Linked DNA regions of Homo sapiens: region 2 is linked to region 1. Evidence: fine-mapped expression QTL. Tissue or cell type: blood mononuclear cells. Region 1 holds a variant in brackets; the other region holds the start of a gene. All regions are shown on one strand. Distances are from middle to middle.

Region 1 (2,841 bases):
CTGCCAGGAATTTTTTATAACTCCATTTTATCTCCTTTTTAAGTTATTAGTTATAACTGTTGCATTAAACCAGGGATTGCCAGGCTTTATTAGTATACAACTTTAACTTATCACAGTCTACCTTCAAATGATATTATAACAATTCATATAAAGTTTAAGAATCCAACAATATACTTCCACTTCTCTCCTCTTGGCCTTTGTGCTATTGTCACAGGTTTTATTTCCATAGATGTTATAAACCTTATACATTATATTTTTGCAGATCCATGATCAATGAACCCTAAGCATAAGAAATATGAAGAGTATAGGCTGGGCACAGTAGCTCATGCCTGTAGTCCCAGCACTTTGGGAGGCCAAGGCAGGCGGATCACTTGAGGTCAGGAGTTCGAGACCAGCCTGGCCAACATGGCGAAACCCTGTCTCTATTAAAAATACGAAAATTAGCTGGCCATGGTGGTGGGCACATGTAGTCCCAGCTACTCGGGAGGCTGAAATGGCAGAGATAGAAATCATTTCAGGGGCCTGATTGATTGAACTCAGGAGGCAGAGGTTGCAGTAAGCTGAGATCACACCACTGCACTCCAGCCTGGGCAACAGAGTGAGACTCCATCTCAAAAAAAAGAAATATGAAGAACATAGAAAATGATAGCAAGATATGTCACACACACACATGCAAAATTAGCCAGGTATGGTGGTGTACACCTGTAGTCCTAGCCACTCAGGAGGCTGAAGTGGGAAGGTCACACGAGCTTAGGAGTTCAAGGCTGCAGTGAGCTAAGATCAAGCCACTGCACTCCAGCCTGGGAAACAGCAAGACCCTGTCTCTACATAAATGAATAAAGCCTCAGTGAACTGCAGGATAACTTTAGGTGGCCTAATTCAGGAATGTGTAATTGGAGCCTGAAGGGAGAGACTTCAAGACTTGTTTTTTAAAGATTTTTTTTTTTCTGGTAAGGTACTTGTGAAAGGAAAATTAAAACTCAAGACCCCAAATCACTATGCCAAAAGGAAATAATTTAGCTGAAAGCTGAGTCATGCAAGAAGCTGTCTCTCCTTTTGTTCCTAAGCAGATAGCTACAGATAAAGGGTTAAATACCTCTACAGGTAGCTACTGTAATGTTCACCTTCTATTATATAAAGGGCCACTTTACTGAGCACAAGACAAATACATAATTGACTGTTCCCCTACTTGCTCCTTTTCTCTTGTAACATATGGATTCAATAATGTGATCATCCCCTCCATCTTTCCTCTCCAGCCTGCGTTTCCCCTTTAAATACTGAAGACCTCAAAACCATCTTTAGAGAAAGGCACAGACCTGTCTCCCAGGAACATCCTTAACCTTGGCAAAATAAACTTCTAAACTGATTGAAA[C/T]CTGTCTTGGATGCTTTTTGGTTTATATACTCAAGAAGGATATTTTGTGTTTTTAAAAGGACAAAAGTATTTTGTATCTACCCGCATAGCCACCACTTCCAGTGCTCTTCCTTTTTTGGGTAGATTCAGAATTCCGTCTGGCAACATTTTTCTTCTACCTAAAAGATTTCTGTTAACATTTCTTATAATACAGGTCTTCTGGTGATAAATTCTTTCACCTTTTCTATGTCTGAAAAATTCTTCATTTTGCCTTTTTTCTCTCAGTACTTTATAAAGATGTTACCCCACTTTCTTCTAGCTAACACTGTTTCCAGTGAGAAATCTGCCATAATTATTTTGTTCCTCTATACATAATGTGTCTTATCTCCAGCTGCTTTTAAGATTTTTTTATTACTGGCTTCAAATACTTTGATTATGATGTGACTTGGTATAATTTTCTTCATATTTCTTACACTTAGGGTTCATTGATCATGAATCTGCAGGTTTATAGTTTTCATTAAATTTGGAAACTCGGGGGTGAGACCCTGTCTCTACAAAAAATAAAAATAAAAAAATTAGCCAGGCATGATGGTGCATGCTTGTAGTCCCAGCTACTCAGGAGAGGCTGAGGTAGGAGGACTGCTTAACCCCAGAAGTTCGAGGTTGCAGTGAGCTATGATCGCACAACTGCACTTTAGCCTGGGCAACAGAGTGAGATCCCTTTAAAAAAAATAGTTATTTCTCTGAATTTACACTCACATATCTTCTATCTGATGCTAAAAACTTTGGTTCCTAACATTGTTAACATAATTATTTATCATAAGTATGCATACAATAATTCCAATATAAAATACCAATATTATTACTAACAATCATGCCACTGAATAAATTTTAAGAGGTCTTTGGACTTCCATTTCATCCTTAGAGTATATCCTGCTAAGAACGTATAGTCAAAACACCATGTTCTAAAGTCTGTTGAATTAATTCTTCTTGTTACGTGGATTATAATTTTAACATAATATACAGGTAAGTTTATTACCTTTTATGTTGAGGAATATTTGGATTGGATATGAAATTCTAGGTTGGTAATGATTTTATTTCAAGACATTAACACTATTAGTCTAACACCTTCTGTTGGTATGGGGAAGTCAACTGTTAATTTATCTTTTAAAGATGATTTGTCCTCCTGACTGATTTTAAGATTCTTCTCTGTTTTTCATCTCTTTAGGTGTAGAAATCTTTTTTATTTATACTGCTTGATTATTCTGTTCTTAAATCTGTCTCAGCCATCCTGGCTAACACGGTGAAACCCCGTCTCTACTAAAAATACAAAAAATTAGCCTGGCGTGGTGGCGGGTGCCTGTAGTCCCAGCTACTTGGGAGGCTGAGGCAGGAGAATGGCATGAACCCGGGAGGCGGAGCTTGCAGTGAGCCAGATCGAGCCACTGCACTCCAGCCTGGGCGACGGAGCGAGACTCCGTCACACACAC
Region 2 (2,661 bases), 33 kb before region 1:
CCGGAACACCAGCTCCTCTGTCAGCGGGGCGATCACTTGGTTCCGCAGCCAACGCATGTCTGTGAGGCAGCGGGCCCAGGAGCGGGGGGCTGCAGAGGGAATTCAGGACAAGCTGTGAGTGACGGGCTGTCAGACAGTGAGACCCCAGAGGCTCCAAGGGCTCCTCTCCCACAACTTTACCCTGGCCAAACTCAGGTTAGGCATCAATACTGCTGAGGACGGGGGTGTGGACCCAACATAAACCCAATGTCTTGAGATGACCTGAATGGAAGGCATTAGCTGAGGCAAGGGCATCCTGGAAGTAAACTCTGGAGACACCAAAATTTAAGCAAGACTAGCTCTGGTTGGGGAAGCAGGGGACAGTGCTCTCTGATCCACACCAAATACTGCTGGGGGTTCCCAGGGAACTCCTTGGACGTTGGCAATCAACCCTTAGAGGCCACCTAGCTCTATGTTTCCATTTTACTGATGAGAAAACACACCCAGAGAGATGACATTTCACGTGTCCAGATCACACCCTGAGCCCGCTGACTCCCTGCCCCAATGTCCTGGACTGCCTGTGCCTACTTTTCCCTTCAGCCTTTAAGACTCACCCAGGACAACCTTCAGCCCATCTGCCAGGTCACAAGGGCAATCCATAGAGAGCTGCATCAGTGGGCCCAGGAAAAGAATCTGAGGGCAAGAAAACACTTTCACCATAACCCACCGCTTTTGCCCAGACCTTTGCCCATGCTCCCTGAGACTCCAAGCTTGAAATCCTCTCCAGCCACGATTTCCAGACCATGCATACCGGAGGACCCTGGGGCCATCTCAAAAGTCCTGTCTCCCATCAACCAAAAACCAAAAACAAGAGTCCACGGCACTGCCCATCAGGCTGATAACAAAGACCAGAAGAAAAAATACAGCAGGAGCACTCACCATGGTCAGCAACAGGGGCAGCAGCGCCGCTGGGAAAATGCCCTCCAGCCTGAAGCCCATCAGGGTGAGCAGGGATGTGCCTGGCTGAGCCACAGGAAAGGGGGCATCAGTTTTGCTTCCTCCCCTAAAGACCCCTGAGCTCTCACCGCCGTTGCCCTTTGCCCCGCCTCCTTCGCACCTGGATGCCTGTGAGTTCCCTCCAGAGCAGCACGCACAGGGGTGAGAGACTGGACACCACCAGGACGCTGGTGAAGCGTCGCTTGATGACCGCGGGATGGTCCCTACGGAGGGGACAGTAAGTTCAGGGGGCCCGCGGCTGCCCATGAGCACGGACCCGCCCCCGGCTCGCCCAAGCTCCGCCCGCAGGGCGCGGATTCCGGTCGCGCGCAGCCCCCGCACCTGGGCAGTTCGCTCTTCCAGACGTAGAGGCTGCCCACGTAGGAGCAGGCGAGGCTGAGGCAGGAGAACACTGACACCCAGCAGCACAGCCCGGGGCCCAGGCCGCCCAGCGCCGCCGACTCGGGCGGCCGCTCCGGCCGCGACACCGACAGCAGTCGCAGCCCATCCCCGCCCAGCGCCGCCATTGCGCCCTGACCCGCGGCGCGCACCAGTGACGCAGTCCCAGGGAGGTGTGGGTGACGTCAGGCCGCGGCGCGGCTCCACGCCCCGCCCCGCCCCGCCCGGGCCCGACGCGGAAGCAGACGCGGAAGAGGACTTGGTGAGCGCGCGGCAGCTTTATTAAACCACGGGATAACGGCTGCCCGCAGCCTCCGGATCGGTGGGCGCTTGCGGAAGGGGACCCGGCTCAGGGCCCAGGGCTGGGACTCAGCCACTCTGACAGGTTGGAGACCTCCTGCAGCCACAGCACGTCCTGCGGGAACAAGGGGGCCCGGGGTGAGGACCTCTCAGCAGCGGCCCGTGGCCTGCACCTCCTGCTGAGCCCTTCCCTGCGCGGCCCTCGCCCAGTTACCTCCAGGCGGCTTCCGAGGCTCGCCCTGCCCGGCGCCAGGGCCCTGCCGTGAGCCTCGCGGTGCTCCCTTCCTCTAGGAGTGAGGGGGGCCGCGGTGGCTTCCGGGCGGCGCGGGGCGGCCTCTGACGGGCTCGGGGCCCTGGCAGAGCGCAGAGCTCGCATCTCCTCTATGCGGGGGCTGCCCCTCTTGAGCCTCTTGTTTTCTGCTTGCCCGCTGGTATCTAGGAGAAAAACAAGCCTCTTCATCTTACTTTCATGGCCCTGTGCTAGGAGCACCCTTGGCCAAGGGGAAGCCTGGGAGAACGGGCGCCGAGGGGCTCTTCCCACCGCATCCCTGTCAGCAGGTCCCATCCACACCAAAACCCTGCAGCTGTGGGCGCTTCTGGAGCAGCCCGAGGCTGCAGAGACGTTTCAGGGTCTCCCTATTCTCTCACCCAGGCGGGAGATTGTCCCGAGCCCTCACTTGGGGGACTCAGGCCGCTCAGTAACTTTCTGTATAGATTCTTCCTGGAGTCTGCACTGACAAGCTCCCCTCCCTGCCAGCCTCTGTCCCCCCTCACCTTTCTGGCCTCAGTTCTGTCTCCCTTTGTTGCTCACGTTGCATTGAGCAGTGCCCATAGGCAGCTTTCCTACTCTTAACTGATTCATTTGTCAAATTAAAGCGAGTTTAGATGGATAGATTCTTCCCCAGCAGGTCTTGGGGATGCAGATCAATGAGCTTTTCCCTGAGAGAAGCTCACAGATGCTAGGAGGGGATGCAGACCTGTGTACAA

The links. PIP is the estimated chance that this variant, and not a neighbour inherited with it, causes the effect.
Region 2: it holds the start of RCE1, and the variant in region 1 is fine-mapped to the expression of RCE1 in blood mononuclear cells (TOPMed, PIP 0.93).

Annotation. Positions count from the first base shown.
Region 1 is chr11:66,808,958-66,811,798 of GRCh38, reverse strand. All of the region lies in intron 7 of TOP6BL (TOP6B like initiator of meiotic double strand breaks), which reads right to left. Among named protein-coding and RNA genes, the nearest start is that of RCE1, 33 kb to the left of the region's middle. The variant C/T (reference allele first, on the strand shown) is at 1,373.
Region 2 is chr11:66,842,297-66,844,957 of GRCh38, reverse strand. RCE1 (Ras converting CAAX endopeptidase 1) reads right to left here and starts at 1,517. Exons shown (of 8, transcript NM_005133.3): 1 at 1,318-1,517; 2 at 1,097-1,199; 3 at 919-1,002; 4 at 594-672; 5 at 1-89. The coding sequence starts at 1,502. It overlaps TOP6BL (TOP6B like initiator of meiotic double strand breaks), which reads right to left. Exons shown (of 15, transcript NM_001302084.2): 14 at 1,889-2,109; 15 at 1,442-1,789. The coding sequence ends at 1,724. RefSeq lists an enhancer at 940-1,646 and silencers at 1,287-1,726, 1,837-1,976.